Homo sapiens: one gene and its partners. The protein of the gene in region 3 purifies or fractionates together with the protein of the main gene of each other region. This does not show direct contact. Each region holds a gene or a part of one and is shown on either strand. Other genes may lie near its edges. The genes, in order: SNAP25, GLB1 and UNC13B.

Region 1 (3,655 bases), on a different chromosome or scaffold from region 3:
AAATCAAAGGCTGTTGACATATTTCCCCATTTTATTATGCATGCTGATCAAGCTAAAAAATATGTGATACCAAGACTTGTTTTTAAGCAAACACAACAATAAAGAGGAAAAGAAGCATATGGCCTTCATGTAACCTATAATAAAGAACCCTGGAAATCTGGTATGGCAAATAGCAGGTAACTGAACATAACAACAGTCCCTTCCTCTTTCTCAGAGTGGTGGAGGTAACTACTTCACAAGCATTAGCTCCTTTAGGTCTCACGACAACCACTTGACATATATGCATGGCAGCAATTGCTCTCCTTTTACAGATGTAAATAAAAGTGAGGCTCAGTTCAGATTAGGTAAATTGTTCAGGGTTATACAATTGAAGTGGCAGAGCTGGCATGCAGCCAGCTGACTCTCCACCCATTGCTCCATGAACTTGTTTGGACACATAGTTTCTCTGGTCACTTACACCACCATATCTCACCTGGCTATTTAGCTTGGAGGACTCAGCTTTTTAGATTTGGCTGACTCACGTTCTATGTATCAGCAGTGTGCTTTCTGTTAGAGGATCTCAATGTATTTTGTGCAACTCATGGGATAATTTATGGGGTGGTGGGGAAAACCATGGACTTTGCAGTCAGAGACAAGTGTTCCGAACTCTTTTAAGGCTGCCATGGAAAATAAAGGAAACAACATACATCAAGTGCCCAGTGCAGCACACAGTAGACATTTAGGAAGTTAGTTACTTTTTTCCTTGTGGTCATTAAGTGGTAGTATCTTCAGTCTTCTCTGGAGAAAGTTGGATGCAGAGTAACCCGTGTTTTCATGAGAAGGAATGGGGAAAAAAGATATGCAAAATTCAATGCTCAACTGGTGAAGGTTTTTTTCTAAGGACAAATGGGACTTATTTACCAAATCATGCCCAGGCTTATGATTCTCTCCCAGGCAAGAGGACACTGACTATTTGAGAGGAAAAGCCCAGAGACTGGTGTCTCTGAAGGACACTTTTAAGGAAGCGGAATTGACATGAAAAACTTGTGTCCACCATGCCAATTCTAATAGCACAGCAGCAAATATGTGACCCTGAAAACACAAGTTGGCCAAAGCCATAAATCTACCCCACTGGTGAATGTAATATATGTCTCAAATGGATGTATGAAATATCCTTTTCATCCTAGTGAACAGTAAAACATTTAAACTTATAATTCATATATGCTAAACTGCTTGACTTTAAATGCTCTTAGTGAATGGCTTTTAATCTCTGAATATAAACCTGATTTTAGCAATGCCTTTATTGAGAATCCTTTGATCCTTCGTTAGCATTTTAACTCCTGACTCATAAGTGATAAAACAACAGATTAGAATATTATACCATTTGCCATAGTTTGGCAGCTAGTTAGGGTAAACCTAAGTAATTCCTTGGGACATAATTTTATTCCAATATTTAGGATGAATCTATGTGCAAGGGTACACAACAATTCCTGAGTTATTCTGATCATAACATTTGATCAATAAAAAGCAGGATTACTTACAGTGGTAGAATTCTTTTCTCTGCAAAGGGGTAGCTGGTATCCCCATTCGCTCACTTATTTCCTGCATACATGGGTGTGGCAGGCACTGTTATAGGTACTGAAGATTCAAAGAAAGCTAAGATATTACCCTTGCTCTCAAAGACTTCCAAAGTCTATTAAGAAAGAGAAATACATAAGTAGGTAACTACAAAGCAGTGTGATCAATCTTACAAGGGAGATAGGGGCATTGCTCATTGGTAAGAGGTGAATTTCTAGAAGTAGGAGTTTGGGAAATTAAGACATAATTCTACTTGATCCAGAATCACTACATAATTCTACTTGATCCCGAATCACTGAACTTTGTTTAATGACAGGAAGTTTTCAGAGGAGGAAAGTGGATTGGATTGGGAAGTACTCTCATCCAAAGGATCCTTTCTTAGTCAACCTATTCTTGCATTGCTCCATGAGTTTTGGAGTTGGGAATAGGATTTCTGGCCCAGGAGGTACCATGTTTCTTAAAGCTTGACCCCTTCCTCCCATGAGCGGCAGAAAGTGGTCTCTACAGGGAGAGATCCCAACAGATTGGGATACTGGAATATAGTCATGTATTTAAGGGACATTTTAGTGACATCCTAGTTGATTGCCATGTAAATAGAGACAAGTTCACACAAAGACATACCTTAGATATTTACTGAGTTCGGTGATGGCTGAGGCTGGTTCTTAATATGTATTTGTTTATGATATAGCAATCTCTCTGTAGATACTGACAGCTCAGTAGAAACCTTCAATAGATTGTATATTTTGATTAGAGAGCCATAGCTCTTTTCTACATTGAATTAATGTCTTAGATTCTAAAAGGCATCCCATTGAAACATGCCTTTTAAAATAATGACACCTCAAGAGGGGACACCTAGCATAACACATGGAGGGCAGAAACATGATGATTTTATTTACAGCTCTGACTTTAGGAACCAGTGTATGTTTTCCTGGTACATGGCAGGTGTTCAATAAATATTTGTTCAATGGATTAATTAATGAAGAATGCCATAATAGCAGCTGATTTATGATGAAGCAATACATGGGCAGTGATCATGGAATTGGAAAAAGTAGATACATTCAGCAATTTCTCTGGCATAAATTAGGAATGGACTTTCCCATTAAAATAAAAAATTCACTCAACAAGGCTAATGCGTATTGAAATAGTTTGCCAGTGTTCTTCCTAGCAGTCTTTCTGGCATTTATTTCTGTGCATTTTCTGTTTATTGATAGAGAAGTCACAGTGTGATTTACCTATACCTAGCTGCCAGACCAACTTCGGAATAACTGCAGGGAAATTTAAGAAATTCACTGTTTTGGAATTTGCCAGTTATTATTCTTTGAAACTGTACCAAAGATGAACATAAATAAAGGAGATTAACAACTTGGTCTGAGACTCTTCATGGAAAGGGAACTCTGTCCAACTTGCAGGATTTTCAGAGCTCAACTGAGAAAATTCTCTGAAAAAGGAATGAGGCAGGAGTGTAGGGCTGAACTCTGGCCTCAGGGGGGCACCTAAGAGACTTTCATTTTTTTACTTGCTGTTATCAGTAAAGGACAGAAACCACTGATTCAAGGTTACAGGCATGGAAAGTCATCTCTCAAGTTCAAGATCTGTGACTAGTGTCATTTGAATAAAGGAAGTGATGGGGAAGCTGGGACCAGATGGTCATTTTGTAGAACCTGCCACTTTGGAGGAAAATAACCTTTTTCTTTAAGTAAAAATGGACCACCTTGGAAGATTAAGACACAATGAGTCAGCAGAAAGTGCCAACAGTCTCAATTTAAGACATGAGAATTAGACATCTTTGAGTAATATGAACCATATCAACAACAGCAAAGAAGAGGATGAAATATATTTTTCCACAACCAAAGAAAGCAAGCCATAAGCCCAGTACAGCTGTTATTCAGCATCATTCGGGAGCAGGCATCATTTGACTGAATTTCTCTGGAATCATTGTTAAGCATTTAGAAGGAAATGCTAATCCTTAAATAGGATTTCCCCCCATCTCTTTTTAGGGATACAGATTTGTTCTTACCAGTAAGTCAGTCACTGCTGAGGTTGACCTCTGTAGTCAACAATAAGAAAATCAGTTAGGATTTCCTCTTGTGATACCATG
Region 2 (3,655 bases), on a different chromosome or scaffold from region 3:
GGAATTGCTGGGTTCTATGGTAATCTATGTTTAGCCCTTGAAGAAATTGCCAAACTATGCTCCCAAATGTACCTTCTTATCTTTCTACCAGCAATGTGGGAAGATTCCCTTTCCCCCATGTCCTTTCCAACATTGCCTATTGTCCTTCTTACTATTTAGCCATCTTGGTGAGTGTGAAGTAGTATTTCATTTTGGTTTTGACTTGCATTTCCCAAATGATTAATAATGTTGAACATTAATCAGCCACTAATTTTAGTTTATAATAGACATTTTACCAAAGAAGGTATACAAATGCAAATGTACTTAGCCATCTTATGCCTTCTTTGGTAAAATGTCTATTCAAGTTCTTTGCTCCTTTTGTGACTGGGCTGTTTGTCTATTATTGAATTGTAAGAATTCTTTACATATTCTAGATATAAGTCCTTTGTTAGATATATGATTTGAAAATTATTTTTCTCCCAGTTTGTGGCTTGGATTCTCATTTTCCTAATAATGCTTTTTGAAGAACAAATATTTTTAATTCTGATAAAGTCCAATTTATCAATTTTTGTTCTTTAAGGATAATGCCTTAGGTGTCAAATCTAAGAAGTCTTTGCCTAACCCAAGATCATGGAGATTTCTCTCCCTAGAGAGAAATTTTAGAAGTTTTATAGAGGAATTAAGTTACAAATTAATAATTACAAGATATTTTTACAAACCCAAAATATGTGGAAATTAAACAGCATACTTTTTTTGTTTGTTTGTTTTTGTTTTGTTTTTGAGACACAGTCTTGCTTTGTCACCCAGGCTGGAGTGCAGTGGCATGCTCTTGGCTCACTGCAGCCTCTGCCTTCCAGGTTCGAGAGATTCTCCCACCTCAGTCTCCCAAGTAGCTGAGATTACAGTTACTCACCACCACGCCTGGCTAATTTTTGTATTTTTAGTAGAAATGGGGTTCTGCCATGTTGCCCAGGCTGGTCTTGAACTCCTGGCCTCAGGTGATCCACCCGTCTCGGCCTCCCAAAGTGCTGGGATTTACAGGCATGAGCCACCACACCCAGTAAAACATACTTTTTAATAATCTATGGTTCAAAGAAGAAATCATATGGGAAAGTAGAAAATATTTCTAACAGGATGGCTGTGGTGGCTCACACTTGTAATCCTAGCACTTTTCGAGGCCAAGTTCACATAAAAACTTACATGCAAGTGTTTACAGCAGTATTATAATAACTATAATAACTATAAGTTGGAATGAATTCAGATGTCTATCCTAGCACTTTTCGAGACTTCATTTGAGGTCAGGAGTCCGAGATCAGCCTGGCCAACATGATGAAACCCCGTCTCCAATAAAAATAAAAAAAAAACAAAAAATAAAAAATAAAATAAAAATAATAAAAAAAATTAGCCAGGAGTGGTGGTGTGTGCCTGTAGTCCCCGCTACTCTGGAGGCTGAGGCAGGAGAATTGCTTGAGCCCGGGAGGCAGAGGTTGCAGTGAGCAGAGATCACACCACTGTACTCCAGCCTAGGTGACAGAGTCCATCTCAAAAAAAAAAAAAAAAAAGAAAATATTTCAAACAGAATAATGAAAATACATTTCAATAAATTTTAAACAAGCAACACATAAATAAATAAAAGGGCATTTTATTAAACACACACCATGTACATCTTTTGCCTTCTCCTCCTCCAGCTATTAACATAATTTTCTCCTCTTCTTCAGAATTAAATTTCTCAAAAAGAACGTTTATATTCAAGTATTCCTGTTCGTATTCCTTACCCTGGTCTTCTCTATAGAATGCAATCTGGCTGGGAGATGCTTCACTCCACTGGAACAAGGCTTACTGATTCCCAAGGGCCTCCTTGCTTCTAAAACCACCGAAGTGCTTCTGTCTTTATCTTATTTGTCCTCTTGGCAGCATAAATGCTGGTTTTCTTCCTACTTGTTTGGTCTCTCCTCTTCAGTCTTCATCATGTTTTTGTCCCTCAAACATCAGCCTTACGTCCTCTTTTCTTCCCTCTGCATCCTCTCTCCTTGAGAGACCTCATCCAGCCCATGTTTTCAACAATCATCTATACAACAATGATCTTCTACATACATTCCTGGCCCAGATCCCTGCCCTGAATTCCCAGCCTATAGATCCAACAACCCTCCTCCAATACTGTCTTTCCCAGCCATTCTCCAAGGCCTCTGCTATGGTCTGAATGTTTGTGTCCACCCAAAACTCATCTGTTAAAATTCTAGCCCCCATGTGATGGGTTAGGAGGTGGGGCCCCCTCTGGGAGGTGATTAGGTCATGAAGGTGGAGCCCTCATGAATGAAATTAGTGTCCTCATAAAAGAGACCCAAGAGAGCTCCTTTGCCCCTTCAGCCATGTAAGGACATAGAGGGTGCTGTCTATGATGAAGTAGACTCTCACCAGACAGCAAATCTACTGGTGCCCTGATATTGAAGACTTCCTAGCCTCCAGAACTGTGAGAAATAAATGCCTGTTGTTTATAAGCCACCCAGCTTATGGTATTTTGTTATAGCAGCCCAAATAGACTAAGGCAGCTTTTCAAACACAATTGGTCTAAATTCAAACTCATGACCCCCCTTTCTAAGCCTAAGTCCCCTTCTGAAGCTGCTTCTTTCAGCAAATGGTACCATTCTGCCCAGCTGCAAGCTTGAGACCTGAGTCATCCGAGACATATCCCTCTCCCCAAACCCTCCTGTCCAATCCATTGTCACAATTTATTGATCCAACTTTGAACATCTCTCAAATAGTTGATGTCATCTCCATCTTAGATACCACCATCCCAGTTTCTCAATGAGACTATGGTCCAGCCTCCTAGATGGTTTCCTCGAATCCATAAGTGTCCTTACCCAAACCATTCTGCACAATGGGGTCAGAGGAGCTTGTCAGATCACAGTCTTATCATGTCACTCTCCTGCTTCAATGGCTCTCAACACAAAGACAAAACTTTAACGTGGCCTATAAGGCCCGTCCCAATCTAGTCTCTACCTACTTTCCACACTTGACATTTTCCCCTCCAACCCCATGGCCTTTGCACAAGCTGTTACCTCTCCCAGGAACATGCTTTCTTCCCTTCTTGCCATGCTAATTCTTACTCATCCTTCATATCTCTGACAAGCATCACTATCTTAGGGAAGGCTTCCCTGACCTCCCTGACAAGGCAAAATGCACCAATTATTATCAACCCCATAGCCCTTCTTAGCATCCATCACAGCTATGGTTTTACTTTTTAATATGAGTCTGCCTCCCTCACTAGACTGAAAGTTCCATGAGGGAAAGGACCATGTTTGGTTTTATTCATGATTGTATCCTTAGTGCCTGGCACACACCTTGGGCACATAGTGGCCACAGAATGAGAAGTGTGTTGAATGAGTGATGGTAAGGTGATCTAGGATGAAAACAGGACATGAGGGAGAGGAGAAGGCGGTGAAGGAAGATATGCCAATGTCTTCAAACGACAAGGCGGAGTGACTGGGAAGTGAAAATGGATGAGGAAGAGTGGAGAAGCAGACAGCTTATGATAGAAGCCCCAGGGGTGTGGGGCTGGATGCAGGTGGGGATATTCTGGGAGCACTGGGCTTGGCATAAATGAAAACCAGACAGACTCTCCCAGAGGGATCCACCTCTTTGTCTTGACTGGATTGTCCTCAAGATAAAGAGAAAG
Region 3 (3,655 bases):
CCCCAGTGGGCAACTGTCCCCGCCAGGGGAAATCTGTCAGGAGACAGTTTTAATTGTCACAACTGAGGGTTGCAAGGATTGCTACTGGCATCTAGTGTGTAGAGGCCAGTGATGCTATTAAACATCCTATAATATACACAACAAAGAATAATCTGGCCCAAAATGTCACGAGTGCCGAGACTGAGAACTCTGGCTCTGCTCCAACCTATCAGCTAGTCTAACCGATTTAGCTCAGTAATAACATTCAGACTCTGTACTCAGCTTCATTATGAGATGTTAAAGAGGATACATTTTAAATTTTTCTTCCTATGGATACCAATTGGCAGACACATTGCTAGGCCCTGAGGAGGCTGAGGGGTGGGTTAAATCTGACTTCTAGATCAATTCTTTCTTAACTCTGTCCTGGGTTTCTCAGCCAGGGAAAAACAAAACAAAATGTTCACCAAAAAAGTTACAACAGAAATCACTGTTATTTTCCAATGGGATTTTCCCTAAGTTCCTCCTAATTGCCTGGTATTTTCAGGCTGATTTCTGATCCTCTAGCCCATACCAGCAGAATAGGTACCAGGTCACTGTTCTGAGTACTTCAACACACATACACATATACCTGTACATAAGTACATGCACACACACTGACCCTGACCAACCCCTTTGAACAAGTTTGGGCCAGAGGTCAAAGTAGCATTCTTAATAGGTTAGGAAGTCAGCCAAAGTACCTACCACAGCCCCAGTGGATGAAATAACCTGGCTCAAGTCAGTTCCTGACTCAGAGGCTGCCATATACAAGGTCAACTAGTAAGCTATGAACTGCAGACTCAAGAAGCCCTGGTACACTGCAGCTCACTAACTACAAAGAACCCAAGTGCTGGCTGGGTGCAGTGGCACACCGCTGTAATCCCAGCACTTTGGGAGTCTGAGGCAGGTGGATTGCTTGAGCTCAGGAGTTCAAGACCAGCCTGGGCAACATGGTGAAACCTTGTCTCTATAAACATACAATTAGCCAGGTGTGGTGGTGCACACCTAGTAGTCCCAGCTACTCAGGAAGCTGAGGTGGGAGAATTGCTTGAGACCAGGCTGTTGAGGCTGCAGTGAGCCAAGATCGTGCCAGCCTGGACAACAGAGTGAGACCCTATCTCAAAAGCAAACAAACAAAAACCCAAATATTCTTCAGAGATCTCCAAAATGTCTTGGAAAGTGCACCATAAATCAAAGGAAGCAATACAGAGTTGAGCCTGGAGGTGTTAACTACCACCATACCCAGCTGCAGGGAAACAAATGACAATCACTTATTTTCAGCAATACCACAGGGCAGGTACTGAGGAAGCCATGTGAGCTCCTCAAGGCAGCTGTTGCCTACCTCTCCTGGGGACCTAGGAAGTGGTCTTTTTGCAGCACCAGATCTGGGGGAGGGTGGGTTGTGGCATCTTCTTTCATCTCCTTGGGTTCACATGCTGCCTCCTTCTCTGCTTGACCTGTCACCTCCAAGGGTTTCTCTTGTTCTCCAAAACCTGCTTGGCCATCTCTGGACAGGCTGTGAGAGCTGTGGCAAGAATGAATCGAGTCCGTCTCCCGATGGTCGTCATCTTGTTCGTGATACTGGTCTAGTTCACTTAGCTGAGAGCTTCCTTGACTCACATTACAGGAGGAGCCATACCTACTGCTGCTGGTGGGGCTGTGAGAATGACAGAAAGACAGATAAGTAAATAAATGCAATCAGGGACCAGGACAAAAGAAAGGAGACATCCAGGAAATAATGACTACATTAGTAGCAAGAATCAAATAGGAGGTTCCTGGGAAGAGAGGACCAAACTTCATAATCTAGAAGAATTAGTCTCTATTCAGCGAAAACACAACAGGAAAACAACACAACATGCTGGGTTCTCCAACGACACTTAACCTCAGTTCTGCACTTGACTTTGAAGTATATTTTATCTTAATAGGCTATTTGTGAGTAGGATTAAAAATTATTAAAATGGCCTGTTACTTATTCCTAAAATTCTTTATTCAGTCTTCTAAAGAAGCTTGTCCAGTGGCTGTGATTAATCTTTCTTTAATTTCCACACAGTAAAATGGAATGAATGAACTCCACTCTTTTTCTATTACTTATTACATTGAGGTCATCATTTCTTCCTCTACAATTGTAAATGTGTACGCCTGTACCTTAGGATGAGCAAAGGAGAGCAGACATGTTCTTTCAGTTATCATCTCAGTTTCCTCATCTGCAAGATGAGTTAATAGAACCCATTGGAAGATAGAGGCCAGGACCAAGAGAATACACAAACGAATGGTCTCATCAACATAAATGCTACAATGATATCCCTGGCAGCATAGGAAGCGTCCCAAAGATGAACATCTGTAACTGAGCTTCTTTCAGGGCAAGGCTCAGTTTTGGAAAGAGTGGACAAAGTCCAACTCCAGGATCTGGGTCAGAGCCGTATTCATGCATCTCTATATCTGAAGACCAGCAAGCCAATCTTTTCTCAATCACCTGTATTCCCATATCCAGAAAGTCATGAGAGAAAGCAGTTATAGCAGAGAATGTGACAGTGGCAAGAAGGGCAGAGTGGTGGAAAGAAGAGCAGTATCTAGAAGTTACTTCCTTGAGTTTTATGGCCCTGTCATCTAAGGGCTTCAGTTCTTTTGAAGAATTTTCTTACCACAGAGTCAAGCCTTTAACTAAAGGGCTTGTGTTTACCCTTGGTCAAAGAAGAGAAATCACTGTTATTTTCCAATGGGATTTTCCCTAAAGTTCCTCCTAATTACCTGGTATTTTCAGGCTGATTTCTGATCCTCTAGCCCATGCCAGCAGAATAGGTACCAGGTCACTGTTCTGAGTAGTTCAACACACAAACACATATACTTGTACATAAGTATACACACACACACACACACACACACACACACACACACACACACTGACCCTGACCAACCCCTTTGAACAAGTTTGGGCCAGAGGTCAAGGTAGCATTCTTAATCTGTACTGTATGGTACTGCTTCTTAGGGGAAATAACAGTACCCTCTGCAGATAGATCCTGTACACTGCTCGAGACTGAAGAACTACAGCAAAGGACAGCTCTGAGTTCCTGTGAGATTTTACTCAAAGCATTTATCAGACATCAGCCTTGAGGGTAGTAAAAGGCAGAGATGATACCATGGAAGAAACTATGCAAATCTGTATGGAATAGGATATGGGAATACAGACTATCCCAAGGCATCCTTTGCACTTTGTATTTTGCTTAATACACTCATTGCCACTGGAGAAAGCATCTTAGAAGACTTGAAAAAACAAAGCAAAATAGATCTATCCCCATCTCCTACAAGATATAAGTGCCTAAGGCCCAAGGAAGCATCCTAGCCTATCATGTAGTTGTAGTTAATATATACCACCAACTACTTACTACCTCTTCCTGCCCTCCTTTCTCCATTTCACATTATACAAGGCAGAGCAAACCAGAGTGAGTAAATATCGGGGGCCCAGCTTTTGCTTTAAGCAGGAAGCTCCTTGTTCCAGTAAATGAATTACATTTGGCAGAGAGAGAAGGGGAGGATGAAAATACCCACACACTGAGTTCTTGTTATTTAACCCCTAATTAACATGAAGCTCGGGTACTAGGAAAGACACAAGAAGGATAAAAAGCAAGCTATGATTAATCTA

What was found.
Region 1: the proteins of UNC13B (region 3) and SNAP25 fractionate together in Homo sapiens (co-fractionation; one study listed by BioGRID). This does not show direct contact.
Region 2: the proteins of UNC13B (region 3) and GLB1 purify together in Homo sapiens (co-immunoprecipitation; one large-scale study listed by IntAct). This does not show direct contact.

What each region holds. Positions count from the first base shown.
Region 1 is NC_000020.11:10,225,304-10,228,958, reverse strand, and holds part of SNAP25 (synaptosomal-associated protein 25), read right to left. Parts: intron 2,282-3,655; exon of another isoform or gene 2,179-2,281; intron 1,673-2,178; exon of another isoform or gene 1,521-1,672; intron 1-1,520.
Region 2 is NC_000003.12:33,010,116-33,013,770, forward strand, and holds part of GLB1 (beta-galactosidase isoform a preproprotein), read right to left. Parts: intron 1-3,655.
Region 3 is NC_000009.12:35,308,484-35,312,138, reverse strand, and holds part of UNC13B (protein unc-13 homolog B), read right to left. Parts: intron 1,673-3,655; coding exon 1,358-1,672; intron 1-1,357. UniProt on the Homo sapiens protein: Plays a role in vesicle maturation during exocytosis as a target of the diacylglycerol second messenger pathway.